Linked DNA regions of Homo sapiens: region 2 is linked to region 1. Evidence: fine-mapped expression QTL. A gene starts in region 1. The other region holds a variant in brackets. All regions are shown on one strand. Distances are between the middles of the regions.

Region 1 (15,867 bases):
AAACCTCATACAAAGGAATGGTGAAGGGTCTTTCGTCAAAAATTTTCTTAATTTCTGTGGATCCTAAAATTCAACTATAAAATATTCAGTTCTTTGGGGTTAATTGCCTTCAAAATTTTTTTTCTCCTTAAAAAGTAAATATTACCAGGAAAAGTAACAGTTATCATTTATTTGTAGTACAATGTAAATTAGCTTATTAGTTTTCTTCCTGAAAACTGAGATCCTTTCCCAGAGCATGTACATTTTTTACAGTAGAAGGGTACAGGGATGGGTAATTTTGAACTATGTATTACTGTCTAGAATCTGCGGATTTGTGTAGGAAAGAGTGTCACAAAGAAGAATGGAGAGGAAAAAAGGAGGGAGAAAGGGGAGTTGGGATTAGAAGATACTTTTTGGTCCTTCACCATTCTGTTTTAAGGCAGTTCAGATTTTAGTGTCCTTTAAAGCAGGCAAGAGTTGACAGTATTCCCACATTCAGTGTTTAGGAGGATGCTTTCATTCATATGTGTGGAAATGAAACTTTTGGAGTTGTCAACAAGTCAGAGAAAGCAGAAGAAGCCATGGAACTTGTAATGCTCTCTGCCTTTTTGGACAAAGCTCACCTACTTCATTTTTACCTCTTGGTGTCTATAGTGGGTAAAGTTCATCATTATAAATAGAAACCAGAAAACACTCTCATGAGCTAAGAACCATTTACAGGGTGAAAGTTAGGAAAGTGCACTTGTTTCATGTGGATGTTTTGTGTGAGTTTTGATTATTACTATTAGAAAGTGTGGTACACAGGTAGCCCTTCAGACTAACACCAAACATCACTCCTTCATATATATGATTTTGTATGAACCATATGCATTTTATAGTATGTGGATATTTTCTGAAATCAAATGGAAGAACTTTTCATTTCTTTAGAAATGAAATGTTAAAGGGGAAGAAAAATTTGTTTTGTTTTCAGTTTAAACACTTGGATTTCTGCTGGGCTAGAAAGATGGGATGCTGCAAAGGTATTTCAGGGTACTGTAGCATTGCTGTGATTCAGGGTCTGTTTATAAGGCATCTGTTTATTGGGATGTTCAACTGTGTGACCTGACTTTGTGCAAGGTGCCTCTCTGGCTGCCCATCAGGGGACAGACCTTGTGTACCTGCTGGAAAGCAGTGGAGTTACTTTACATAGTGGACGACTCACTCACACCTAGTGGGTGCTCAGAAAATATTTGTGAAGAGGACAAAGTGGTATATGGCATCTCCTTTGATGCTTTCATATAAAAGGAAGTTGCAGAGAGATGACTCCGGGGACACTATTAATTTTGTCTTCACACAATCAGTCCATAATATGCAAAGTTGTACATACTATACATACAGTACTTAACGGGGTATCAAGTTTATTCTCTTAGCACTGAGCAGGATGTTCTGAGATGTGCAAACCTTTTGCTAATTCATCTGTATGATGATTAGGTTACTGGTTGGAGAAATTTCCTCAATATGGTATACTGTGCTTTGATATCAGGTGCTAATAATTTGCTGCAAACAGGACCTAGAGAATTACTTTTAAAGACAACCTTTTGATCTTTCCAGATTAAAACATACAAAAGAATAGGTTACACTCTTGTAAGGAAAAAGCTTACAGAACTTACTAACTACAGCTGTCTGTGCCATAGCCTGGTTGGTCAGGTGGCCTATTGGGAAGTATATAAGTGCCAGTAGAACTGAGTTCATATGTCTCAGAAGTAGTAATTGTTTCTATTACATGGATACCATATGGACCAGAATGTTCATACAGCCAGGTATAAGCTCCACAAAGACAGAGATTAGTGTTTGTCTGAGGTACCGCTGTGCCCCAGTACTTAGAAAAGTACCTGACATTTATAAAGCACTACCATATTGAAGAATAACTAGAATTTGAAAATATGTGGTCTGATTTACTCATCTGCATTAGAAAAATCTGTTAGAATACCCTGAAGTTTAAATGTTTCTTGAGATGTTGAAGTATGTTTTACATTGCTATGGGGATAATAAATTATTATTTTTAAGGAAAAGCATTCAACAAATCAACATATAAGATGATATCTGTTTTGAAAGCTCCTGAAAGATTTTATGTTCTTTACAAAGAATTCTGGGCAAAAGGCAGCTGGGTTTTTATATTTACAAGATAGATGAAAATAGTTTTATAATAATCCAAGTGCAGAGAATGAGGAGATTCTAATTCAAGGGGCCAAAGTATTTGTTTTGATGTCTGTACGGTATTGACATAAAATAATTTTGGAAGCATTTCCACTTGTTTCTACCATCCAGTTAAATATGTACCAAGTAACTACCTACTAAGTAACAGGTACTTGGCTATTGACAAGGGATACATGTCTTGGGAGCTTATAGTGGAATAGAGGAGACAGACTCATAAATGGTTAATTTTAGCACATCCTAAGAGCTATGATAGAAGTCTGTGTGGGGACTGAGAGGAAAGGCCCTTAGTCCAGAAGTGGGGTTGAGAGTTGGGGTCAGGGGAGGAAGGGAGGGTCAGGAAAGGCTCCAGAAGTGTTGGATATTAAGTGAGTCTTGAGTGAGTGTTGGGTATTAAGTGAGCATGAGATTTTGGTTGAGGAAGAGGAGAGAAGAACAGCAAGAGCAAAGTCTCAGAGCTGTGGGAAACTATACTCAGTTTCGTGTTACTGAAGGTAATGAGGAAGATGAAGCTTGTGAGGAAGGCAGGACTTGGACATCTGTCATTCTAAGAAGACTGGACTCCATGCTAAAAGCAGTAGAGAGCCACTGAAGGATTTTTAAATAGTGTAGAGCAAGCTTGTCCAACCTGTGGCCCATGGGCTGCATGTGGCCCAGGATGGCTTTGAATGTGGCCCAACACAAATTCATAAACTCTCTTAAAACATTATGAGATTCTTTTGTGATGTTTTTTCTTTTTCTTTTTTCATTTTCTTTTCTTTTCTTTTTTTTTTTTTTTTAGCTCTTCAGCTGCCATTAGTGTTAGTGTATTTTATGTGTGGCCCAAGACAATTCTTCTTCCAGTGTGGCCCAGGGAAGCCAAAAGATTGAACACCCCTGGTGTGGAGGAATTCTTAGAAGAATTCCTGGCATTCCAGCATTCCATTGGTATGCCGATGGCAGTCTGGAGGATGGGTTTTAAGTGGGCAAGGCTGGATGGGTGATCATTTGCATCAAGTAAGAGATAAAGGCCTGTCTTGGATAGTGGAAATTAGAGATGGAGAAGAGAGGAGGGTTTCAGAACCAGGTGTTCAACAATTATGAGTCCAATCTGGAACTTTTGAGTTGACTGATAGGACATTGCCTACATTCGATCCCTAAAAATTATTTAAATCTGTACTTACTAATTTATTTTTAAAAACTGTATTTTCTAAAAAAAAAAAAAAAAAAAAAAAAAAAACTTCATGCAAACAGTATTGTTTCACATCTTTGCAAATTTCTTAACATCCGGTTTTACAGAAGACAGATTTTCATATTTGCTTCTGCATTTAATTTGTTGCAGTTGACCAGGTGCAGGGGTTTACGCCTGTAATCCTAGTGACTTGGGAGGCTGAGGTGGGAGGATCACTTGAAGCCAGGAGTTCCAGACAAGCCTAGGCAACACAGCCAGACCCCATCTCTACAAAACATGAAAAATAAAAAAAATTAGCCAGGCCTGGTGGGGCATGCCTGTAGTCCTAGCTACTGGGGAGACTGAGGTGGGAGGAGAGACTGAGCCCAGGAGTTAGAGGTTACAATGAGCTATAATCATGCCATTGCACTCCAGCCTGAGTGACAGAGTGAAACCCTGTCTCTTAAAAAAGAAACATGTGTCACAATATCTTATGTTGGTGAAAGTATAAAGAAAATCTGGTCTCATACACAAATGTAGTTGGTAAAGGAAGAAATAGCTTAATAGTCTTTTCAGGTAATTTGGATATTCTAATTTAATATTATACCAAAACAAGTGGTAGTTCCTTAAAGGAGAGATGCAAGATGGAACCTGAAACCATATCAATGAACTTTTTATCTTCTGATGCATTAAAATCCATTGGCCACATCTTCTGATACATTAAAATCCATTGGCCACTTTGAATGGCTCTTTCACCCATGTGTGATTTTATAATGTCTTGCATTGTTCATTTGGAAATTATTAGTTAATTGAGTTATGCAAATTTTCTAAATGTTGCCACATTTCATTATATAATATAAAAAAATCACATTTGTTAATAGCGCATCATCACTGGGCTCATCAAAAAAGTCTTCTAGAACTAGGAAGCTATCAAGCTCAAGGTGTCCAACAGAAGTTTCCCAAAATTGTAATTTTTATTGAAAAACTTGAATTTTATTATTGGCAACAAATACTGTTATTTTCCTTAACATGACAGGCTCACTTTGTTCATTAAAACACAAAACCAAACCAAACCAAAAACTGACAAATACCTGAGTCTGAAACAGTTTGTCAGTCAAGTATAATTGGTGTTCCATGAAAAACAGAGGGCAGTTCAGCTCACAACTCAAACAGTATTTGATTAGAACAAATGGCAATGACATACTGTTCAAGCTAATAGACAAGTGCATTTCCTTGAGACAATTGTCATATTTCAGGATGCAGCACAAACTTCTATGCATATTTCCCATCTTGCCACATAAAATATTAAAATGATGTATACAAGAGTCAATTAATATTGTTACTGCTTCATCCAGGACTTTTTAGGTGAAACTGGCTTTTATTCTTTTTCTTTCTGCAAGTAGACAGTGGTGAAGAATACAATGATTACTAGTTCATTTTGTTGCTGCTGCCTTGATTTGTTTTAAGGCACCATTAGTTATACCCATTGCTTTTGTACCATCATTTCAAATGTAAACACAATTGTTTCAGGATAAATGATGAGATTCGAAAAGTTATTGTACATTTTGAATGTTTCAGCATTCCTTGTGTTTGTTGTCATGCATTAAAATAAAACACCTTTGATGACTGGCCGGTGCTGGAAATGAATATAACCGAAATAGCAAGTCCAGACAGTCCATAGATCTATCCATTTCTAAGGCAAAAGTGCAATTTTGCAGACAAAACCAGTTTGCAGTTAAGTCTTTAATTCAGTGAGCTGCTGCATTGTTGCAAAGTGGCAGTGCTGTGATTTCTTTTGCTGACTTTTCATCTAGAAAATATTCAGCAAAATAAACTCTACCAGGCTTTATTGGTCTTTCACCTATGATGTTCATTTCTTCAGCCAAAGCAGTACAATAACTTATCCTGTAAGATACTGGCTTTTTCATCTCAAGTTTGAAAAGCTGTTCCAAATTGTCTTTGGCTTTTCAAAAGTTCATTACATCTACACTTAAAAATCCAATTCTGGCCGGGCACGGTGGCTCACGCCTGTAATCTCAGCACTTTGGGAGGCTGAGGAGTGGGGGATCATGAGATCAGGAGATTGAGACCATCCTGGCTGACACGGTGAAACCCCGTCTCTATTAAAAATACAAAAAATTAGCCGGGCGTGGTGGCGGGCACCTGTAGTCCCAGCTACTCGGGAGGCTAAGGCAGGAGAATGGCGTGAACCCGGGAGGCGGAGCTTGTGGTGATCCAAGATCGTGCCACTGCAGTCCAGCCTGGGTGACAGAGCGAGACTCTGTCTCAAAAAAAGAAAAAAAAAATCCAATTCCTTTTTTTTTTTTTTTTTGAGACAAGGTCTTGCTCTGTCACCCAGGCTGGAGTGCAGTTGTATGATCATAGCCTACTGCAGCCTTGACTTCTTGGGCTCAAGTGATCCTCCCACTTCGGCCTCCCAAGTAGCTGGGACCACAGGCATGTGCCACCATGCCCAGCTAATTTTTAAATTTTTTATTTTATGTAGAGATGGGGTCTCATTATATTGCCCAGACTGGTCTTGAACTTCTGGGCTCAAGCAATACTTCCTGCCATGGCCTCCCAAATTGCTGGGATTACAGGCGTGAGCCACTGCACCCAGCCCAGCCCTCAATTCCTTTTTTGAAACTCTGGATTATTGGTCTCAAGATAGTGTTACAATGTTAATTGACACCATAAAACTAAAAAATGTTCTATTGCATAAGATACAATAAGGTAAATTATTAACATTTATAAAGCCTGGGGAAAGATAGCGTTCTCATATTTTTATTTCTTCTTTACAGTTTCTTCCAGTAGCTTTGGATTAGATTTCTCCCCTCTATGAGTTGTCACAGAACTCTCTGATGTATCATTTCATCTTTTTCAGTATCTTTAGATGTAGACAGTACCTCTGAGCCTGGAGTAAATGAATCCTCTAATCTCGTTTTTTAAAGCAAAAGATGAGGCTTCAGAGTCAGTTAGATGAAGATTTCAATCTCTTCTTTGCTTTCGATGGAGCAGTGTAACTGGACAAATTCTCAAGGCCCCATATTTCGTATACAGTTTTTGTGCATCAGAAATCTCTTGAGTGTTTTTGAGGGTTCTGGTTCAAAGTGTCTCGTAAGACTATAGTCAAGATGTTGGCCAGAGCTGCAGTCATCTGAAGGCCCGATGTGCAGCTGGAGAATCTACTTTCAAAGTAGCTCACTCACATGGCGGGCATATTGGTGCTGGCTGTTGGCCTCAGTTGACTTTTCCAGACAGTGTCCTCGTAACATGGTGGCTGTCTCCCACAGCATGAGTGTTCAACCATATTTGATTAGAACAATGGCAGCATCCTATCATTCGACTTAATAGATCAAACTGAATTTGTATTTCAACATTTACATAAAGCAAAGTACATTTAAATTTTTTTGTAGCGATATTAACTGTTTTTGATGTGTATGGGAGGGCTTCTGGGCATTGGGGGTTGTGGTCTTGTCAAACAGTACTATTGCTTTGGCATTGCACAGAAAACTTCGTTTTGAAACATTAGTCTTTTGTTGACCATCTTGGTCTAGATTAAGTTCTCCAGAGGCCATGAATTTGTGGCTTGAATTTTCATATCTCATGTAAAATGGGAAGATAATTAATTAAAACAGGAGGATAATTAATTTTGTAAAAAATTACTTTCTACGGATTTATTTGAATGGGCATTTAAATCCTTTATTATACATAAAATATTGGTGGGTAGAAAACAAAATTCAAATAGATTTTATTGAGAAACTCTAATGTATTAGGGTTCTCCAGAGAAACAGAACCAATAGGGTACATATAAATATGTAGAAAGAGATTTATTATGAAGGATTGGCTCACACAATTATGCAGGCCAACAAGTCCCACCATCTGCCATCCATAAGCTGAAGAACCAGAAGAGCTGGTGATGCAGTTCTAGGTCAAGCCTGAAGGCCTGAGAACCAGGTGAGCTGGTGGTGTAAGTCCTAGTCAGAGTCTGAAGGCCCAAGAACCAGGAGTGCTGATGTCTAAGGGTAGGAAAGGATGGATGTCCCAGCTCAAGAAGATAGCTTCAGGCTTTTTGTTCTATTCTGGCCCTCAGTGGATTGCAGAATGCCTGCCCGCATTGGCGAAGGGGGATCTTACTTTACTCTGTCTACTGATTCAAATGCAAATATCTGCCAGAAACACTCTCACAGACATACCCCAAAATGATGTTGTACCAGCTGCCTGGGCATGCCTTAATCCAGTCGAATTGACACATCAAATTAACCATCACACTCAACATCTTATTTGGAGCATCTTTTAAATGATTTTGGTTTCCAAGGAATTGCAATTACTGAAGTCTTGTGTTTTCCACAGATAAACCAAGGGATTTGTTTTCTTTTTTATTTTTTAAAGTTATCAAAAAGTTGGAGGGAGAGGCAGCAAGAAGTTTTAGGGAAATACACTTGTGAGAAACAAGGAAATACAGTCATGCATTGCTTAACGATGCTACATTCTGAGAAATGTGTCGTTAAGTGATTTTGTCGTTGTTTGAACATTATGGAATGCACTTGCACAAACCTAGATAGTCTAGCCTGCTAGTCACCTAGGCTCTGTGGTATAGTCTATTGCTCCTGGTCTATAAACCTGCACAGCATGTTACTGTACTGAATACTGTAGGCAACTGTAACACAGAGGTATTTGTCTATCTAAACATATGGAAACATAGAAAAGAAACAGTAAAAATATGGTATTACAGTCTTACAGGACCACCATTGTACATGGAGTTCATTATTGACTTAAACATCATTTTGTGGGGTATGGCTGTATTTACTTTGGACCTACCCCCACCAGGGTCTTATGCCACCTACTAATACTGAGTAACAATCCAAACTCATCGTGTCCCCCCCTTCGTCCTAAAACCCAAACATTCTGCTCTGTGATCCCTTGTGATCTGGAGCTGGTGGCCCTGTTCACCTGGTCGTGGCTCCAAGCCATGGCCTGACTGGGGACCCTTTCATTTCTCCCCCCCTCCAAAAGAGCGAGACCTGTGGGTTCTGCCCTAGCAATGCTGCCCAGCTCTGCTTTCTGTCAATTTACTTTCTCCTTTCCCACTGTATCTGCCCCAGTGCCCAGTCATTTCTCTCCTGGGCTACTGCAGTGGATCCTAATGGCCTCTGGGCTCCTCATCTTCTCTCAACTGCTTGCAGATTAATTTTGCCTACCTAAAATTCATGTTTTCTCAATGTTTATTAAATAAAATTCCAGTGTCTCAGCTGCTGGAGGTGCTCCACCCAAAGGCACCAAGTTATCTTTTATATTTAATGCCATCTTCTCCTCTTGACAATCGTAAAAGGGGACTATACACTCTAATATGAACCCTCTCCTTAATTCTTTGCTCTTGTTCTTTCTGTAAATGCTGTGGGCCCCAATCCCACCCATCCTTTAGGACCTATCTTAAATGCCACCACCCCTGCAAAGATTTTCCTCCTGACCTCCTTTTTCCTCTACCAGACCTGTTGTTTCTCCTTTTAGGTGGCTCACTGAACTTTGTATCCCTCGTGTTATTTAATCATAATCGGTTTATTTAAACATAGCATGTGTGTACTTAACCTTATCATTCCCGCATTTTTTGCTAGTTGGACTTGAACAAATAGTTGTATAAATCCATTGGAAAAAAGTATTCAAGATAGGAAAGGCCAAAATTACTGTGTTAGTTTATCAGATAGTGTAAAGCTATGCAGAATTTTAAAAGTTATATCTACATATACTACAGCACCTACATGTTTGTGTATTATTTTGCTAAGATGGCTTTGTTCTAGTATTGAAGGATACAGAAGTGTGGCATTACTTTTTATTCATGGCTGCACCTAAAACATTATTTGCGTCCCAGCAGATAATTTGAGAACATAAAAATGCTCCAACATCTCTTTCAGTTCGGGATGTTGCCTAAAACCGTCGACAAACGCTATGTTTGAGAAGGGAGGCTACGCTGGGGCGCCGGAGGAGACAGGCCCTTAAGAACCTTCCAGAGATGCCTTAACTGGGCTAACAGCTCGCCGCGCCGGGGCAGGCAGAGGGGTGCGGGGCGCGCTCCTTCCAGGACTTGCCAGTCCCCAAGAACCAGGCCAACCGGTTCCCTCCACTGACTCCCGCCTCCCTCTGCAGGCCCAGCCCTGCGCCGCGCGCCCTCTCCCCGGGCGCCCAGGCCCGGCGGGGGCCTAGAGGGCAGGGATGGCCCGGGCGAGGGACGGGGTCCCGGAGGCGGGAGGCGGGAGGCGGGAGGCGGGAAGCGGGAGGCTGGAAGCCGCGCGCTGTCGGGGTTTCCCGGTGAAGGGCAGGCAAACAACCGGTCGGTCTGGGCGGAGCCGGGCGGGCGGGGCGAGGGCGGAGGGCGGAGGGCGCATTGCCTCATCCTGTACATTTTACTGGAAATCGGACGCATCCGGAGGAGGGGCTGGGAGGCGGCCCGGGCACCGCCAATGGCCGGGCCGGGCGCCGGGGAGGTCGGCGAGCGCTGCGGCCCGTTAAATACCCTGGCAGTCCCGCGCCGCGCCCGTACTGGCCCGCGCCGTCCGCCCGCCGACAGCTCCCTGAGCCAGCCCGGGAGGCAGCCGCGCGCAGCGAGCCGGTGGCGCAGGTGTCGGGGTCCTCGAGCGCCCAGCCTGGGAGCATGATTGTGGACAAGCTGCTGGACGACAGCCGCGGCGGAGAGGGGCTGCGGGACGCGGCGGGCGGCTGCGGCCTCATGACCAGCCCGCTCAACCTGAGCTACTTCTACGGCGCGTCGCCGCCCGCCGCCGCCCCGGGCGCCTGCGACGCCAGCTGCTCGGTCTTGGGCCCCTCGGCGCCCGGCTCGCCCGGCTCCGACTCCTCCGACTTCTCCTCTGCCTCGTCGGTGTCCTCCTGCGGCGCCGTGGAGTCCCGGTCGAGAGGCGGCGCCCGCGCCGAGCGCCAGCCAGGTACCCGCCGGCCCCGCACCGCTGCGTACTCGGGGCGCGCACGCCTAGGAGGTTGGGAGCGGGACTCCCCAGATGGAGGGTGGCCCCTGCGCCCTCCTTAGAGCTAGGACGTACGCACCTTAGCCATCAATTACCACTCCCCGCCTTGCCCGGGCCGGGCGCCTGCCTGACCTACACGCCCTTCGCCGGCCCGCGGAACCGGCTCCCTCCCGCGGGCCTCGGGGGGGCTTCAGAAACCGCTCGGCCGAGCTCTGACTGCCGGGCGAGTGACCAGGAGATCGCTCGCTCTCTAAGAAGCAGCTTTGTTGAGTCATAATTAATAAACTATGATGAGATTTGGGGTCTGATGTAGGTGTAATTTTCTTCTTGTGAATATTTTAGTGGAAAGCTGTAGCAGAGGATAAGGGTTTGGGAATAGCGTTAAAGGTCATGACTTATTTCTCAGTTTTTATGGAATTTTTCAGTAAAAAGACTTGACCGTCAAAGAAAAGGAAACTGCTGTTATCAAGGTGAAGCCGGGCTGAAAACCAACTCAAGTTATGCCTTTAGTTTGGCGAGTTTCGGAAGTCTGCCCGGAATTTTTGCGGTCTTGTTTTTGTTGTGTGTGCCTTAAAAAAAATGGATAAGCCATATCTAGCAGAGAAAGACGTAATGTTATCTTTCATGGGCTGCGAATTGGTTTCCTTTCTTAGTGAACCGAGTTGCATAATTTGGGGGAAAACAGGATGCCCCTGTGGGTAGGCTAGAAAAACGCCTCGATAATTGAACGTTGAGAGTAATTAGCATGATTTTAAAGAACGTCTCTTTCCGGTGTTTCCCACTCTTAGCCACTCCTGTTTTGGTTGTCATTTATTTTAAAAAGTGATATCTCATTTTCATTTTAAGTCATTTAAAATCATGCGAAAAGCGATTTAAACCACTGCGTAGCAGATCCAGAAAGAATATGTGTTTAGGACCTTTTCTTACCCACTTGGCCTTCATCTGGCTGAAACTGTTCTGCTGGTCCCTTGGTTTACCACACAGCCACAGGGGATTTCTGAAACTGCATTTTTTTCTTTCTGTGACGTTGGATTATGAACTGCTGTCATTCCAGAAAAATGCTGTGTTAGATTCTGGCAATTCTGGTATCTCTTGAAATCCCTAAACTTAAAAATAAAGCCAACTAATGTTTCACTTACCCTATCATTGAACTGTTTATCTCATGTATTTATGATAGATACAGATGTTCAAATTATGCGTTGTTTCTTGCCCCATCTTATTTTTGTACACTTGATGGAGCGGCTGAATTATTCATTTCCTGACTTTGTGAATTTGTGTTCAACACACATACTAAGAGGTTGTGACATAATAGTGATCAGAAGTGGAGTACTGTACTTGTATACCAAATGCTAAAGTGTATTTCAAAGTTTAAAAGTGAAACAAGCATATTTCCTTTTTACTTAGAAGACCTGTGTAAGTAATTCCAAAAACAGTCAATGAGGGGAAATCCTGTGTGCATATGTAGAAATGTGTTTAAGCTCAGTGAATTTAAGCAGCTTTTTTGGCACAGTTGAATTGAAGGAAATAATAAGACATAAATCTAAGACGTTGTTAATTGTCAGGTTTTCGTACATAGAGATCTTTGAAAGAAGTTGTTTTGTGCCTTCTTAGGTAAGCGGAATTGATAGACTTTAAAATTTCTATGTGAACATAAAACCATTGGTTTAAAAAGCTAAAAGTGCATCATTTATCACTTGCTCCCCAAAGTTTTTCCAAAGTCAAGAATAATTATAGAACTATGAGAGTCAGGATGGCAAAATCTGTCATCCATTCTCATGGGTGGTTAGGGCTGAGAAAAAAATGTGATCCACTCTCATGGGTGGTTAGAGCTGAGAGATAGAGAGGCTTAATTTGGGTTTACCTATTGGCTCTGAGGATCCTTGACCAAATTTTTATGAACTTTAATTTCTTAGGGTACCCAGTGGAGAAAGGTATCAGGCAACTTAGGACCTTTGAGCAGAGCTCGGGACTCACAAGGCCATTGATTGACCAGAGCAAGTTGGAAAGGTTTTGCAATGTGCTGCTTGGGGACTTTATACATTAGGCAACAGCTATACTTTTGGGATTATTAACGTTTATGTCTGTGAAGATATTTAACCAGGAATATGTTTTGTTTTCTTTTGAACAGTTGAGCCCCATATGGGGGTTGGCAGGCAGCAGAGAGGCCCCTTTCAAGGTGTTCGGGTAAAGAACTCAGTGAAGGAACTCCTGTTGCACATCCGAAGTCATAAACAGAAGGCTTCTGGCCAAGCTGTGGATGATTTTAAGGTGACATCTATTTTTCTGTTTTGAGTATAGAGTTGGGGAGAGGGGTTAGTCTGTCAGGGTTATTATGATGACCTAGGTCCAGTCATCAAGTAAGTCACTTGAAATTTTTCATAAGATGACAAAGTCCATAGGACAGAGACCATATTTGTCTGGTCTGTTGTATCCTCCTTAGCCCAGTGCCAGACACCTGGTAGGTGGGCAAGAGAAACTCAATGAATAAATAAATGAAGGCAAGTTCAGAGGCTCAACTGAAATGGAACATTTTAACTAGAAAGGGAAAAATCAAATGGTCTTATTAATTTCATCTTGACCTGCGTTGAGCTAAGGTGAAAGTGAAAATGAGGAAGTCGCAAGATAGAATAAAAATTGATATAGAAAATCAATATTGATAGAAAAACCATATCAGAGATTTATGGTAAGCTATAAAGGGTGGTAGAGATAAGCCTACTTACTGATGTATATTAAGAGGAAGTCATTTTGTATACACTAAATTGGAAACTTTTTTCTTTATAGACACAAGGTGTGAACATAGAACAGTTCAGAGGTAAGAGTTACTTGTATTTGTAATTTTTTCAGGGCTTTGGAGTAAATAATAGAGTGTAATTATGGGTAACATTTATAAAATAAAATGATGACAGAGGCTGTATTCCTTTGGGTACAGAATTGAAGAACACAGTATCATACAGTGGGAAAAGGAAAGGGCCCGATTCGTTGTCTGATGGACCTGCTTGCAAAAGGCCAGCTCTGTTGCATTCCCAATTTTTGGTAAGTATCTCACCATTTTCCTCTGACTATCCTTTGGAAATTATTCCTGGGATAATTTTAGAAGGAAGTGAGTGTGCAAGTTGCATTTTCCTTCTTTCCAGACACCACCTCAAACACCAACGCCCGGGGAGAGCATGGAAGATGTTCATCTCAATGAACCCAAACAGGAGAGCAGTGCTGATCTGCTTCAGAACATTATCAACATTAAGAATGAATGCAGCCCCGTTTCCCTGAACACAGTTCAAGTTAGCTGGCTGAACCCCGTGGTGGTCCCTCAGAGCTCCCCCGCAGAGCAGTGTCAGGACTTCCATGGAGGGCAGGTCTTTTCTCCACCTCAGAAATGCCAACCATTCCAAGTCAGGGGCTCCCAACAAATGATAGACCAGGCTTCCCTGTACCAGTATTCTCCACAGAACCAGCATGTAGAGCAGCAGCCACACTACACCCACAAACCAACTCTGGAATACAGTCCTTTTCCCATACCTCCCCAGTCCCCCGCTTATGAACCAAACCTCTTTGATGGTCCAGAATCACAGTTTTGCCCAAACCAAAGCTTAGTTTCCCTTCTTGGTGATCAAAGGGAATCTGAGAATATTGCTAATCCCATGCAGACTTCCTCCAGTGTTCAGCAGCAAAATGATGCTCACTTGCACAGCTTCAGCATGATGCCCAGCAGCGCCTGTGAGGCCATGGTGGGGCACGAGATGGCCTCTGACTCTTCAAACACTTCACTGCCATTCTCAAACATGGGAAATCCAATGAACACCACACAGTTAGGGAAATCACTTTTTCAGTGGCAGGTGGAGCAGGAAGAAAGCAAATTGGCAAATATTTCCCAAGACCAGTTTCTTTCAAAGGATGCAGATGGTGACACGTGAGTATTCTTTTATCTCATGTTCTTAATTAGGTAAGCCACACTTGTTGGACTAGTGAGCATATAATTTTTCTAGGGTATAACAAGGTATACCTTAGTTAGTGGTTGGCTAACCAAGATGACTGGTGTAGATAGAAACCGCCACTCAGTGATAGCTAGTATGTCAAGAAAGGGTTTTCCTTCAAAAAATTTTTTGGCTGAACAGATAATCTGTTCTAAATTGATAAAAATATCTGTATCTTCTTGATTAATTGAGTTTGGAAGACCAGCGTAGACTATGTCTATAGAACAGAAACAGTTAGATCATGATTAGGGATAAACTGTGAGTTGGTTTGTAGATTGATCTTAATCTGTCCTGATGTCTTTGTGGCCTTGGGCAAGTTATTTAACCTCCTTAGGTCTCAGTTCCTTGACGTGTAAAATGATAATACCTCTTGTATAGGGGTTTTATGAGTATTAAAAATAATAGATTTAAGTTGATCAGTATGGTGCTTGACATTCTTCTTTTTCTTATTTCTGATAGCCTAACCCATCCTGTTCCAACTGGGGTGTATTATCAATGTAGCAGAAAAGACAAATTATGCTTTGTAATGTTTCATTTGAGTGTACCAATATATAAAAAGGGGGCTAAAGGAAGATTTTTTTTTTTTTTTCAAAAGAACAACTTAGTGAAATCAGAAGTGATTCACCCGCTTTCCTTTCCATGTTCCCCAGGTTCCTTCATATTGCTGTTGCCCAAGGGAGAAGGGCACTTTCCTATGTTCTTGCAAGAAAGATGAATGCACTTCACATGCTGGATATTAAAGAGCACAATGGACAGGTGAGGACCTTGACAGAGTCTGAAATGGCAAAGAGGGGGTCATGGTGAAGTGAATGATGACCAGCCTTATGTGTAGATCATCTTAGAGCTCAAGATCAAGAGAGTTTAGTTAATATTAACTTTGAGATGTTGACTTTTTGCTACCATCAACCTTGAAGTTATTAATGTTAACTTTGTAGCTGTTTGACCAAACACTGAGAGTAATAAAGCCACACCCTAGGCTTACTTTAGTTTCCTTGTCTTACAGTATCTGATTGCTTATTCAAAGGATTTATTTTCTCTCTGTGGGTTTTTCCCTCAGTCATAGTTTAGTTTCATATTCCTTGTTATGATAACATTGTATGTTTAAAATATCTTTTTTCCTCTGGATATCCACAGAGTGCCTTTCAGGTGGCAGTGGCTGCCAATCAGCATCTCATTGTGCAGGATCTGGTGAACATCGGGGCACAGGTGAACACCACAGACTGCTGGGGAAGAACACCTCTGCATGTGTGTGCTGAGAAGGGCCACTCCCAGGTGCTTCAGGTAAGAGGCAGCAAACCAGGCTTCCATCATTGCAAGGCCAGAGAGATAGAGTTGGATATTAGAAGTCGGATATAGGTTGCCTGTTGCAATGATCTATTTTGAGTTAACTTATTCATTTCTTGGGGATTCTAATAGGTATATGCGCAGCTTATGTAGCTAACAGATGTCTGTTTTTAAAATCTGCAGGCGATTCAGAAGGGAGCAGTGGGAAGTAATCAGTTTGTGGATCTTGAGGCAACTAACTATGATGGTAAGCAACTGAAACTTTATTAGATTCAGAGCCACTTAGGGGGAACCATAAGGTCTAAGGGTGCTA
Region 2 (15,867 bases), 790 kb after region 1:
GTGGGTCTGCCATTTCCAGCCCGCTGACTCAAATGTTAATCTCCTCTGGCATCAACCTCAGAGACACACCCAGGATCAATACTTTGCATCCTTCAATCCAATCAAGTTGACATTCAGTATTAACCTTCGCAGCTTTCTTGCTATCTTTACTTTTTTTTTCAGATTAACTTCATAATCAACTTCTCTATCTTCAGAAAAGAATTCTGTTGATATTTTTGTGAAAATAATTTTAAAGACAATCAGACATCCTTATGCTTTTGCTATAAATTTATCCGTTTATCAATGTTTCCAATGTATTAACATATTTTATGCAAGACAATCCTTTGCTTATAAATTTTTCTGTTTCAATTGCTGTTTCTTCCTTGCAATTTTGTTTTTTGTATATTTGTACTTTCTTCCCAATGTACTCCAATCTTTATTTTTATTATATTGGCTGTTTGGTTTGTCTTTTTCAAAAAAATCAGCTTTTTATTTATTTATTATTTTTTAACTTATTATTTTATAATTATTATTTTGTCCTTTTATGAACTTCATATCTAAATTTTGAAATTCAATGTTTAATTTTGTTATTGTGTTGATATTATTTTATCATTTTATTGACAGTACATAATTTTACTATGATAAGTGGCAAAAGATAATTTGAAGAAAAAGGTAAAGTCGTAACTCTTATAGAGATAGAATAATACACATGTGTAAAATATTTTACTTTTATTAATCAATGAGGGGACCACAGCTGTTATAAACGGTTAAATGGAAAAATCAAAATTTCAGAAATTTGTATGGAGTAAAGGAATATTGAGATAAATTACAAACGAGGAGACAATTTTTCTTCACAGTGTGGAGAAATATCAATCAAAATTTTAACTTGCAAGATAGAGTTTGTTTACCTATCAATTACCTGCAATTTTTTTTAATTCAAATTTTATTTTAGATACAGGGGGTGCATGTGCAGGTATGTCATATGGGCATATTGCACTGAGGTAGTGAGCATAGTTCCCAATAGGTAGTTTACCAATCCATGTCGCCCTCCTTCCCTAAGCCCTCTAGCAGCCCATAGTGTCCGTTGTTCCCATGTTTATGTCCATGTGTGCTCAGTCTTTACTTCCCACGTATAAGTGAGAACATGCAGTATTTGATTTTCTTTTCTCTTGTTAATCTGCTTAGTGTTATGGCCGCCAGCTCCATTCATGTTACTGCAAAGGACATTATTTCATTTCCTTTTTATGGCTGCATAGTATTCTATGGTGTATATAGATCACATTTTCTTTATCCAGTTCACTATTGATGGGTACCTAAGTTGATTCCATGACTTTGCTATCGTGAAGAGCATGGCAGTGACATACTAGTACATGTATATTTTTGGTATAATGATCTGTTTTCCTTTAAATTACCTACAGTTTAGAAAAAGGTGAAAAATACCTCAAAAACAATTAACAGCACTAGAATCAGACAGACCCAGTTGGTATACTATGAGAAATGCTTAGATTTTCATTGAAGTACAAAATTTGTTTCTACATCAGGATATTAGTACATTTTACACTTGTATGTTTGACTTTCTTCATTTTTACTGATGTGATTATTAATACATAATTCTACTGACATAAGCAAATCAATAGCTTTAGAAATTATATATGGTTAACTTATGTTTATTGTACTTTATTGATATAAATGTATCAAGGTATAAATTTTCCTCTGAGTACTGCTTTATCTGTATTCCACAGATTCTAATATGTCATGTTTTTATTATTATGATTTTGTAGAAATTTGGCAATTTTGTATTGTGCTTAATAGAGTATTTAAAAATATATATAGGTAGAAGTCTTTTGTTTGATTTAGTTATAATTTCCAATTTTATTACATTGTGGTCAGATAATCCTATTTGCATGGATTCTATTTTCTTGAAAAAGTTACTGTCTCCTTTTAAGCTAATACTGGGTATTTTTACATAATAATTACATGTTCTTTGGGGAAAAAGTGATTTTTTAAATAATCAAGAATCACAGTTAAATGTATTTATGCAGCTTACTATTATGTATACTTCTTAGGTTTTCTGTATCATTTATGATATCCCAGTATTATTTTTTCTTTAATATTAGTGACATTAAATGTACCTAAACATATTGTACTTGTTTGTTAGCTTTAAGTAATCAACTTTCACTCTCCAATAATACCTATAAATCAATCTGCAAGGTTTATCTACTGCAAACTTTTTTCTCTCTTCTCCTCCCATTTTTATTACTTATATTTTTCTGCGTTGTGAGAGCATTTATTTCCTAATATTATTTTTTCATACTTATACACAACTTCTAATACTTGTGTCAGAGTTAAAAACATTTAATGCTCAAACACAAATCTTCAGTTGATTTTCTGAAATTATTCTGGGGTTGCCTGCAGCCTATTTTCTATTAAATTTCTCTGGTAAGATTCCTGGAATCAACAGTCTTGAGATATTGCTTGCAAGTTAATAAATGTCTATGGTCTTTATACCTGAAGGACAGGTTGACTGGATATAAAATATTTGACTTACATTTACTTCAGTAAAAATATTTTTGTTGAAAACTCTAATACAAATCCAACATTTTTCCTTATAAGTAACTTAATTTTTTTTTCCTGTGTGTTTAAAGAATGTCTTCCTTTATTTTAAAGACTAACAATTTTACTTAGTTTGGTCTCAGAGTTGCTCATTTGGGCTCTATTTTTGCAGGCGTATGTATGCCCTTTCTGTATGTAGTCTTCTCTTATTTCAGAAATTATTGCTCTGGCAACTCTTCAAATACGAACACACACTTGCATTATTATCTGACAACATAAAATACGTAGAAAAACCACAAATGGCATACCATTAAAAATCAGCCTATTACATATACCTTTCACAAAACTAGTTAAATCAGTGTTAAGATGAGGCTGGGAATCATATCATGTATCAAAGTGAACAGATACTGGAGTTAAACTGACTGCATTTAAATACTAATCCTGCTGATTTATTAGCTGTGCAGTCTTTGGCAAGTGTCTTAACCTCTCTCTGCGTCAATTGTATCATCTATAGAATGACCATAATAATGTATATCCCTTAATTTTTTTGTGAAATTAAATGAGACAATTCACATACAGTGCTTAAACACTGATAAGCATGATATCAAAATACAATAAGGGCCACAGATATTCATTTCCAGTCCGATTTTAATGAACTCTGTAGTTTATAGTCATCATATAATTTCAATCTTCCATTCTTTTTTAATCACAAAATCTTTTTGTATAAGAGGTATAGTGTAAGATACATGAAAGCACATAGGTCAAATAGAGGAAATGTTATCTTATCCTTGATTAACTGGGCTTAAATTCGTCTATTGATAACTTGTAAGATAGGAACCATATTTACATGGAGCTTTCTAATGCCCCATCTTTCCCAAGAGCCTCGCTTATTCTCTTGACCCGGGTATCTTGATTTTAACATTAAGAAACCAGGTTGAGCATTATCTTCTCCAGTGGACAATAACCTCTAAGTGTGTATTAGGAGCTCCCAGAATACCCTTTACTAACTTTAATTCTCATTGTATTCTATGATGACTTTGTGATAACATGGCTGTTTCTCCCAGAAATGAGTTAGGGGCAAAGAATGTGTTTTTAAACTTGTTTCCATAATACCTGTTTTGTGATTGAACAATATATTTTTGTCTGACTTACATTTTATGAAGAATGATTGTAAGGGTAAAATGGAAAAATATCAGTAAAGTTTTACTGAAAATGCATTAAGTGTAAAACATTTAACTGTTATAAATAATGGAACTCAACTTGAGAGATTTGAATGGAAGGAATTGTGCCATTCACAATCTAAACAGATTCACCACCGAAAGTAGAGAAATCAAGGGCATCCATTTCATTTTAATACTCCTTTTCAAATCAAACAAAATTGCTAGTACACCAAATAGATTTAAAAGATCTGAGTTACATTTTTAAGAGGCAAGCACATCTCTAAGTGTTGGTTTATCATGGTTTCATTTGCTTGAGAAGCCAACAATTGGCTGTTCATTTTACCTTCCTCTGTGATATGTATAAATATCCCAGAAAGCCCACAGCTTACTTTGAGCTCTCTCAGTGCCATCCAATTATAAATGCAATTGTAAATATCTCTGCTCTGTTAACAAAAATGCAGCATTACTTCTCCTATTAATGTAGAGTATAAACTTTCTATTAGTAATCTTATGCTTAAGATAAAAAGGAAAATATATGAAAGCATTGTGGATAAAGTTGAAAAGCTGTACAGATGGAAGGTATTAATGCCAAAATTGTGAAACTTATCCCTAGCATCTTCCACATTCCATTAGGATATTTTGCCCGTCTCGAACACATCTATTATCATTGTTATACTGATATTCTCTTAGACTGGAGAGATGAGTGTGGTATCTTAGAGAACAATTGGAAGATTGTAATAGTAGCAATTGCATTAGCTCCCACAATGGCTTTCTATTCCTTAATTAATAAAGTCAAGATTGCCTGTTTAAGAATTCAAGGATTATTTACACACTTTGAATATACATCTTATTTCTCTAATATAATATCTCTGCAAGATTCTGCTCTCAAATCTCAATCTCTAGTAAATGTTTATCCTTTCTTTAATACACAGCTCCATGATTCTTCTTCTCTTCTGGATTATGATTTTTCTATTTGAAAATTATTTCTATATTATTTCTTGTGTGAAAATTGCTTTTCACCATTTATTTATTAAACCTACATTTATGTAGGTTCCTGTATGTAATGCACAGTATTTAGTGCTGGGGATTCAATGGGCAAGTATAAATAATACATAGTCCCTGATTATCAAAGTGTTCTAGGGAAGCAATGAGCAGTCAATGGAAGCTAGGTTTTCTTCCATTTTTGGTATTGTACCAGACGTGCAAAGAATTTTACTCTTCACCGTCTCCCTGCCTCCACGCTACCTTCTTAAAAAACCTACATTTGCCCTCTTCTCAGAAAGCCTATACTCAGAGCAACAGCTATATAGTCAGTGGATCAGGTGACCCCAAAATGTAACCATTGGACCACAGGTATTCTCATGAGCCAAGCTAAGACAATACACTTCTCTTACCAGGACTTTTAAATTTGAACTTATAATTGATTGAGTTTTTGTTAGGACTTCAATTACCAGATGATAAAAAGCAGGAAACAGGAAACTTATATAGTCAGTCTCTGCTGTGTTAATGAAGAATCAGAGAAATAGCCACTATTGAAAGAGAGAGAAGGATAACTAGATTTACAGAGAGAAATAGAGAGGTGAAGAAACGAATTTGGTTCTCAACTGATTCTACTCTTTGAGAGGTTTGGCTATGTCTCTGGTATTCTTCTGATGCATTTTACAGTTTGTTTAAGTTAAATGAGTTTGTGTGCCTTACTATCAAATGGTAACTTGACAGACATTTATCAGTCAGTGGGAAGTAATAGACCCCTGGGAAAAATTGTAGAATATTAAGGATAGTGAAAATGTCATCATTTGAAGCAGAGGGATAGTCTTACTTGTCGACGATGAAACAATAAACTGGCCCTTGTATTTTCTTGGCACACACTAACACTGATTCTTTAAGAAAAGAGTTTTAAAGGAAAGATTTATGAACCCAAAGAAGAATATAACATTTCAAATATGAAAATGTCCTGTGAAAATCCCTATCTGTGTCTGAGATGTCTTAAATTCTGAAATTGCTGAAATTCAGATTAAGAAATTAGGTAAACGTTGTGTTTAATTGCAGCTGCTGAATTCTCTGACCCTTTGCACATCTGTGGCCAAGCTACATAGGTTAGCAAAGAGTAGGATTCTGACTTTTGGAATGGTATGAGGGAGAAGCTGGATGTGATGGAGGACCCCAATTTTACCAGGTTATTACATTCTATGTTCTTCTTGTGTATATTTCATGCTCAACAGAGTTGATAACATTTCCCAATGTAAATCACCTTCAGTGATTAGAATTCAGTATGAACCTTGAGGGTCTGGCATTCCCTGCATATCATGAGAACAAATTCTAGAGCAGTTCATTGTTTTTTGGCCTCTGTTCATTGTATCATTCATTCATTTATTAATTAATATCTTCATTGATCTGTCTTCTTTTGAGAATTTAATGGATTCTTAGCATTCTTTTGGGCATAGAGGATATAATAGTGAACAAAATAAGTTTCTCTTCACAGAGATTTTATTCTAACAGAATATTTCAGAAACATATATTCTTTGAAGGAAATAAAGTAATAGAAAGAAGTGATTGTGAAGGTGGAAGGATAGTACGAGTTATCTATAATGGTCAAGGAGGCTCTCCCTTGTAATGGGATAACTGAGCTGAGGCCCATATAATAAGAAAGGACCAACTGTGCACAAATTTGGGAAAAGGAGAAGAAACAGCAAATGTGAAGACCCTGAGACAGGAAATGTTTGGTGTGTTCAAGGGGCAGGAAAAAAATCCAGAAAGCTAGAGTCCAGCAAAAGATGATGAGCATTGTGAATAATGAGCTCAGGGACATTACAAAATTCAGATCATATATAGCCTTATAAACCATATTAAGGCATTTGGATTTTATGTCAGTTGTGATTGCAAATTGTAAACAGAGGAGTAATCTGAACTCATTTGAGCTTAATATTAAAAAGACACTTTATATGCCTTGAGGAAGAATAAATGAAGTGGGCCAAGGAAGGAACTAGGTTTTATGATGTTCTAGGACACATGAGAGTGGCTTGGGCTACAATGTGAATGCTGAAAAGTGACCAGGAGAACAGACTGGAGGTGCAGGGGAAGGACAGGGAAGTGACTGATGGCATTTAGGTTTGTGGCCTGAGCATCTGTGTAGACAATGGTGTCATAGATTGAGATTAGAAATTACAGGTTGAGTATCCCCTATTTGAAATACTTGGGACCAGAAGTGGTTTGGATTTTGAATTTATTTGGATTTTGGAACATTTACATTATACTTACAGTTATGCATTTCTAATTTTAAAATCCAAAATCCAAAATGAGCATTTATTTTCTTTGAGCATTATATCCACACTGACAAAGTTTTGGCTTTGGAATGTTTTGGATTTAAGATTTTCAGATTAGGATTGGGAGTACTCAACCTGCATGAAGGAAAGGCAGATCTGAAGGATGGGTATAGTTGTTCAGGACTTGGAATGCCTATTGGCAAGAGTAAATGTGGAAGAGGCAACTGGATTTATGGGTTTGGGGCTCATGGATGGACACATTTTGGGTACAGAAATAGATTTGGAGTCAGCAGCAAATAGATAATATTAAAAGCCAAAGGAAGAACTGGATGAAAACATTTAAGTGAGTGAAAATAAATGAGGGTGTCTAGGATTGTGCTTTCAGTAACTGAAGTGTTTATAGTCAGGAACAAAGGGAGAAGTCACAAAAAGACACTGTACAGTCAGAGAAGACCAGGAAAAAATTTATTTCAAGGAGTGAGTGGTCAATCTTGTCAAGTATTGCCAAGAGGCTGAGTAAGAAGAGAAGATAAAACTGAT[G/A]ATGTAACTAGACAATATCGATGCCATAGTGACCTGAATAAAGAAATTGAAGCCCAACTTGAGGGATCTTTAGGAGAGAAATATAGGTAGTAATTACAGACAAATAAATATTTTGAAGAATTTTTTTTACTGAAGAGTTGAAGAGAAATGCAGAGAAAAATCCAAGAAAGTTCTTATTTTAAAGGTACAATAAAGAAAAGTAAATTTGCATTCTGATGGGAATGATTCTTTTGACTATTGTAGAAATATATTCCTGTAAATATATTCCCATTATCATGGGAATGATTCAGGAGTGAGACAGAAACTGATGTTGCTGGAAGCGGGTAAATAATGGCAGAACAGAAGACCCTGAGTAGGAAAGAAAGGATAGGATCTGGAGCAGCACTGTTAAAAAAAAAGTATAATGTGAGCCACATAAGTAATTTAAAATTTTCTAGTAGCCACATTAAAAGCATAAAAAGAAACAGGTAAAATTAATTTTAAAATTTTAAATTTAACCTTAGATATCCAAAATATTCTCATTTCAACATGTATTATTATAAAATTATTGAGTTTTTTTACTGTTTGTATATTAAGTCTTTGAAATTTGGCATAAATTTTATGCTTACAGCAATATCAATTTGGATTAGTCATGTATAAAGTGCTCAACAGAGTGTAAATGGAGGGTTTGGCATGAGATAAAACGTATAGAAATTTCATTCATTGTAACACGAGGTAAGACAGAAATATATGTAAATGAACAGTGCTGTTTGGTGGTGGGAATAAGAGATGGCTGTCATCTGACTTTATGTTTTAAGTGATGTCTGAAGAAGTGTTAGACATTTTAATAGAAGACAAGAAATAGGTGTTGCAAAAATGGCTATTTTGTTTTCATTTTTTAATTTTTTAAAAATATTTTGTCAAGGACCCAATATGGAAAGAGGTAAAATGGCCATTTTGGAGAGTGGAAGGATGAATCTTTAGGGTTCATTACCTTCGAACATTGAAAATGGGTGTCCTAGTTCAAGTTTTTTCTCAGCCAAAGAAGCCTAGAAGGAATGAACAAATTTGACTACTTCATGGTGGTAACGTATCACAGAGCAGTAGAACCTATAAGATTTCTACCTGGAGACATCAGAAGAGAATTTACTGTCACAGAAAGAAATAAAAATCCAGGTACAGTTGACCCTTGAGTAACATGTGTGGATCCACTTATACACGGAATTTTTTCTACAAAACTTGGATGGAAACTGTGACATTCACTGGATGCAAAACCCATGTATACAGAGGGCCAACTTTTTATATACAGAGGGTCTGCAGGGACAACTGTAGGACTTGCGTATTCCTAGGTTTTGGTATATTGAGCTGGTTCTGGAACCAACCCCCTTGTATGCTGATGGACGACTGCCTAATGAACAGGGGCCAGTGCTTGAAATTGCCATCATACCCTCTCTATTTATCCCATATGTCCACTATGAGGCATAATAGAACCAGTTGGAAGAGTCTGCCAACCTTCCACTATGTGAACAGAAAAGTAGACGACACTTTAGAAAGAGTGAATGAAGCATACATAGAAAGAAGCAGAGATGAGAGACCAACAAACCTAGACAGGTTGAGAGTATAACTTTGGTTCCAGTTATTGGTTCTAATCCCTTTTCAGGTCTATTGCTTTTCTTGGTTTTGTGTTCTAAGACATAGCCCTTATCCTGCTACTATATAAATTACTCCCCTTTTTATTATACTTGTTTAGTGTTTTCTGTGACTTGCAGCTCTGCCTCCTTCATTGGTAGAGATAATAAGGTCCTGAATTTAATGTGGAGTTAGTGGGCTAGGTGTAAAGAATTACATCACAAGGGGCTGACTGAGGAGAAAGACCTGACAGTGGTCATGGAACAAAACACATTCATCATGACTATCTTTTTGTCTTATTTTAAAACCTACATACTTATTTACCCAACTTAGACATAATACTATTTTAGTACAAAGAGAATGTATCAAAGGCAAAATAAGAAAATAAAAATCACCAAAACTCCAATAAACAGTATTGACTACTCTTTTCTCTTTGGTGTATCATTTACTGAATTGGATACAAATATATCTTCTGTCCATAAATAGATTCTTTGTCCAAAAAATCAAAGAAGAGACTCTTTTGATTATTGTAGAAATATATTCTTGTAAAGAACTTTCCTCATTCTCCTTGCCTCCTTTACTCCATTCTACTTTTCTTTATTTCATCTCCCAAGGAAAGAGTTATTCAGCCTTTGTTCCCTGAACTTTCTTCGTTTTATTTTTTCAAAATACCATAGAGATGCTGACATGCTCTTGAAATATCAGTAAGAAATTCCATTTGGGCTCTTGCAATTGCTGGCCTGTATGGAGATAGGGCTGCTGCTGTCCGAGAGATTTCTAAACTAATCATACTTTTAATTTCTTCAAAATTGAGCAATGGTTTCTTGGGAACTCCTCTAATGCCTCAACTTAGAGATGGCCTCTGGAACTTGAGGCCAGCTCAACAAATCTGTCACTGTAATAACAACATCCTAAACAGAATCTTGGAAATGAAGGAAGCAAGCTTTGCAGCATTTACTTAGGGTTTCTGCAAAGGCTCTTCTTCTGGGTGAAATAATTACTCTGAGGCATTACCTACTAGCAAAACAGCATCCCAAGAAGCTGGAGTTAAATGCCAGAGACTTCTGAAAACAAAAGTAAGACAAGCCTCAATTTCAAAGTTCTTATTTTTGGCAGCTTCTGTAGTTACCTGATGGGAGAAGAAATTTTCCCCAGACTTAGCGCTGTGATGAGCATGGACTGTGAGATCAAGTCAATTTTCTGCTGCTACAGTGGGCTAAAATAACGCTACCTATTCACCAGCCTAGAGAGAAATTCGATTTTGTTTTTATTAAGCTGAAACTTCTCTTGATACTCACAGTGAGTCCATAGGGGAGCAGAAACACAACCTGTACCTGCTTCTTCAATTTAGGAAATCTTGCTGAATATGTAACAGGGCAATCGCGATGGGTTTTTACAGAAGCCACATACATACATATAAAGTCAGACATATTTTTCTCATATACCTCTTTCATCAGCCAGTTTTCTTACTCTCAATCTTGTCTGTACATCTGTCAAAACAGCACAATTTACACCAAATCATCTACATTTGTTTTCCATTTAGTAAAAATCCATCTACCTGCAGATGGTAGTTTATGGTGTGTATGTGGGATTCCTCTCACTCTGAGTGCATGTCTTACGTCTTCAAAAGATAATATATTAGCTGGAATTTATCGGGCATCTATGTATTTATTATATTGTCATAGAATGTTTCATGAGGTTAGGGACCATTTCTGCTTGTTCAACCCTGAACCATCAATACATGTTTTCACAAGTATTGACAGTTTGCCCATAGAAGGTGCTCCAAAAGTATGCATTAAATCAACAGACTACATGCACTCATGTGTTAAAACACTCTTGCTAAATAGGTATTATTGTCTTAATTTTGTAAGAGGGGAAAACAAGTCTCAGAAAAGTTAAGTAATCACTCAAAAGTCATACAATGAATAAGAAAAGAACTGGACTTCAAATTTAGTTTTATTCACCTCCTCCTTCCATCCCATCCTACCATACTTCTTCAAATACAGCTTTGATGTGGAAAACACCTATTTTTCTGACAGATTTCCATTGTTAATTGCATGTTTTATAGTTTTAAAGGGAGCCGAACACAAGCTATCTTTGCCATGCAAAAATCAGAGAGAATGAGATACTTGCTGATTTTTCTGACTTTATAAACAGACATGCACAGGCAGTTTTATGTTAATGTGTTAACTCAGTTGTTTTGGTTCAAGTTTGCTTTGGAAACTGAGTCAACTACTCCCTTTTACCCATGCTTCTCCAATAAGCCTCTCTTATTGCTTTACCCACCACATCTTACTATAAAGACCCACAAGGTGGCTATAAGAGTGGGAGATCTCAGTAAGTTTCCATAATTGTAACAGGGTTTGGCTTGCAGTGTCTTATGGAAGATAAGCTGAAAAACTCTTATCTTTTAATTAGCAAAAGCTAGTCTGATTATGGTTCCTTGTTCATTTTAAATTGATAAAAACTTTGCTATAAAAAAGTAGCAATAAAATACATGAAGACATCTAGCTATCAAAGACCACACCTCCATATAGTTATTATATCCCATATTTCTCTCTTGAATTCCTACATTCTTACATTTTAAATTCTGTTTCCCTTCAGGACATTTGGATCTCCCAGTATCACTTAAGTGTATCCTTCCTTTTTCTATTCCATCTCATTTCTGTGTTAGTTTTTGATTTGTGTATTTTTGCTAACCTATCTCCCTTCCCCTTTCTGGAATTCTTGTTTAAAAGGCACATTTAGTTCTCATTTCTTCTATATATATTTAATTTGCTGCTTGGAGAATATCTTTGGCAGGAAGAAACAGTTGTTGGCCATTTCTCCATTAACACTAAAAAATAACACCAATCTTGCCAGCAAAACACACACATGCACACACACACACACACACATATGCACAAACACACAGAGGTTTCATATGTAAAAGAGATATGCAGACATGTAGTATGGCTTATTTCTTAGGTATCTTGCTTTTTTTCTTTTTACATTTCCATTTTTGGCTACTACCAGCAAAAATGATTTTAAAAAATCATTATGTCATTTCTTTGCCTCCTGCTCTTCCTTTTTCTCTCAATTTTTTCATCTCTCTCGTTTTTCCTTATTTCTTCTCCCATTACACCTTAGACTGTCCAAAGTGGACAAATCATGTTAAAAGCATTAGGAGCTTTTAACTTGCATTCTATTTTTCCAGGAGCTAAGAAGAGAACTGCTTCCTGTTTGGGTATTTTCATTAAGGTGAACATGTCAAACTGAGAGAGAAATATTAATGGCAATAGTCTAATTTCTGTATGCCTGATGACAGGTTCTGATTTTATCCCATGTCTCCAGATAGCACCTTTTTTTTTTTTTTTGGCAAAGAGGATATGAGAGTGCTGAGATTATAAGGGCTAGAAAAATTAAATAACTTATTTGCTCATTTTATGAGTAGCATGAATATCAGTGCTTCTCACATTTGGCACCATGAATATTTTTGAATAACAATCCAAATACATTCAGCTGTTGGGTATTAGCTATGCCTGCTCAGGAATATTGCCAGCTGCAGGTTGGAGCAAAAACACTGAACTTGGAGTGCATCATATTATCCTGATGGAAAATCCACTCAACAGCAATTGACATAGTTGTTAGCAGAGATCCAAAGCCCTATTGAGAAGAGATTTAGGACATCTGGGGCTTCCTAGGTCTTTTCTTCAATTTGCCCTGTGTTTCAGTACACAAGAGTGTTTACATCGTGACTTCATATAAACCTTTCTCTCTGTACGTCTCATTTGGCACTTATTATATATTGCTTTATATTCTTTATACACCTATGCATTATGGGACATAAGTGCCCTATCTTTGAAATAACATAATGCAATTATTAAATTATCTCTATCTAGTGTCTTATACATCATATATTCTCAATGATAATGTTTAACGGTGAAGGCCATTCAATTTTGTCTCATTTTTCATTTGAGCTTCAGCTGTGTTTTCCCTTCTTACCCTTGCTTACAAATCTTTCTCTAATTTTGTCATAACTTTTTTCTTTGTTTAAATTTTTGGAAAATGTGAGTTTTAAGTCTGATTTTAAGGAGCTCAAGGGAAACTGATTACAATCTGGTGGCAACTGCTAATTGTGATTTGCAATGCAGTTTCGGGAATGATTTGGGTGGAAATGATGAAGAGCATGAAGCTGCGGGTCGAAGCAGTATGAGAAATAAAGTTAGATGGCTAAGGAGAGACAATTGACAATGGTATTGTTATCATCCTAATTTTATGAGGCAGGAAGCTAGAGACTATTCTTGCCTTTTCATAAATTTATTCCCATCTCTTTCAATGACCTGTCAATTTTACTTCTAAATATCTCTTGAATGTGTTCAGTTACCTTTATTTCTGCTACGCCTACTCCTGTCAAGAAATCCACATTATCTTTGTGGTCTCCTATAATGCCATACTAATTGCACCTCATTCATTTATTCTTTTAAATTTATTGTTCTTATTAAATTTGTTTTTAAATTTATTATTCTTATTAAATTTATTTTTAAATTTATTATTAAATTTATTATTCTTTTAAATTTCATTTAATTTCATTTAATAATTATTAAGCATCTGCCTAGGAAAACAATAATAAACAACAAAGACATTTTTCTGCCTTAACGAAGTATCTAGTATAGTTGGAGGAACAGTTTTTGATACAACTGAGCAAAATGTGATGAGTACCATGACATAGTAAACACTAGAGCTGGCCCCTTCCTGCAATGAGTTCTCACATCAAGGATGATTTCCTAAAAATACCAATATACATACCATTCCTGTGCTTACAAATGTTTCAGTGGCTCAGCATTGCCTTTCAGATGAATGCAGAACTTCTTAACATTGCCTTGAGACCCTCCATGTTCTGGCCTCTACTGACCTCTCTCTCTCTCTCTCTCTCTCGGAGAGATTATGCAATTCATTTTTAATTTTTTTATTAATGTATATTTACTACATATTATAAAATTAATGTAATATATTAAATACATTAATTTATGTTATATATATATTTTATTTTATTTTATTTTATTATTATACTTTAAGTTTTAGGGTACATGTGCACAATGTGCAGATTTTTTACATATGTATACATGTGCCATGTTGGTGTGCTGCACCCATTAACTTGTCATTTAGCATTAGGTATATCTCCTAATGCTATCCCTCCCCCCTCCCCCCACCCCACAACAGTCCCCAGAGTGTGATGTTCCCCTTCCTGTGTCCATGTGTTCTCACTGTTCAATTCCCAACTATGAGTGAGAACATGCGGTGTTTGGTTTTTTGTCCTTGTGATAGTTTGCTGAGAATGATGGTTTCCAGTTTCATCCATGTCCCTACAAAGGACACGAACTGTTCATTTTTTATGGCTGCATAGTATTCCATGGTGTATATGTGCCACATTTTCTTAATCCAGTCTATCATTGTTGGACATTTGGGTTGGTTCCAAGTCTTTGCTATTGTGAATAGTGCCGCAATAAACATACGTGTGCATGTGTCTTTATAGCAGCATGATTTATAATCCTTTGGGTATATACCCAGTAATGGGATGGCTGGGTCAAATGGTATTTCTAGTTCTAGATCCCTGAAGAATCGCCACACTGACTTCCACAATGGTTGAACTAGTTTACAGTCCCACCAACAGTGTAAAAGTGTTCCTAATTCTCCACATCCTCTCCAGCACCTGTTGTTTCCTGCCTTTTTAATGAATTTTTATTGTTTTTTAAATTGATGCATATGCTTACCTCTCTTGCCTGTCCTTATCTCTGCACACTTTTCTTTTAGGTTCTCTCTCTTATTGAGCAATTTCTCACATCAAGGTCTTTTCAAGTGCTCTCCTCTCTTTCTGCAAGTCTCCCCTATACCCCTCTTCACTGCAGCCTTTCTTAAGTCTCAGTTTAGATTTTCTTTTCCCTGGAAAATATTCCCTGAACTCCCTTCTAGGATTGGAGACTCTGTAGTCTGCTGCAGTAGCAACCCATATTACCCTATAATAGTACTTGCATTTCATAGTAAAAGCTTGTTTAATGTTCAGTCTATCCTGCTAGACCCTAAGTTCCGTGTCTGTTCAATTTAGTTGTATCCTGACAAGGATTCTTTGCTTGGTCAAACTTTAGTCAGGCACCTGAATCTTCTCCTAAGCCCACCTGTGCATTTCCTTAAAAAATCTAGTTTTAGCAAATAACTTTGCTTAGTTTAGTTAGAATCCTTTATCCCCGATTATCTGATCACACTCAATGTCTAATCAAATTCTTTATCCTCCCCCATCACCCAATGGATCATCCTGGTCTGTCTTCAGCAAGAATCCTGTTAGGTTGGTTTAGCCAGAATCTCCCTTGCCTCTCATGTTTCCTCTTAGTAATTTCACATCCACTAACCCCCACCCTGCTACTTGGCTACAAATTCCAACTTGACTGTGCTATATTTGAAGTTGAGTCTGGTCTCTCTCTCTCTCAGTGCAAAATTCCATTGCTGTGGTTCCTATACCTATTGTGAGGTTCCTGTATAAAGTCTGCCTTAACAATCCTGAGGGACTTGGAAAGTGCCCACACCAAGTGCAAAACAAATAAATAAATCCATCTGATTTAGCCTCATTGTTATTTGTCCATTTTTCCTCCTACAGGTCTCTCAAATTAGTCCCTTCCTTTCATCCTTTTCTCCCTCTTTGGATCAGGCTTCAATTATTACAAGTCTCCAAGCCACTCGTTTTATCTTTAATATGGCTTCACTTAACCATTGTACATGTTTTGGCCAGA

The links.
Region 2: its variant is fine-mapped to the expression of NFKBIZ in prostate (GTEx, PIP 0.98).

Annotation. Positions count from the first base shown.
Region 1 is chr3:101,839,658-101,855,524 of GRCh38, forward strand. NFKBIZ (NFKB inhibitor zeta) reads left to right here and starts at 9,857. Exons shown (of 12, transcript NM_031419.4): 1 at 9,857-10,260; 2 at 12,428-12,567; 3 at 13,081-13,111; 4 at 13,229-13,332; 5 at 13,434-14,206; 6 at 14,921-15,026; 7 at 15,405-15,551; 8 at 15,738-15,801. The coding sequence starts at 9,972. RefSeq lists silencers at 2,968-3,262, 9,336-10,535, 9,584-9,755 and enhancers at 7,328-7,457, 8,916-9,753, 9,548-9,842.
Region 2 is chr3:102,633,141-102,649,007 of GRCh38, forward strand. The region is part of intron 9 of LOC105374016 (a long non-coding RNA gene); the gene reads right to left. Among named protein-coding and RNA genes, the nearest start is that of ZPLD1, 210 kb to the left of the region's middle. The variant G/A (reference allele first, on the strand shown) is at 7,496.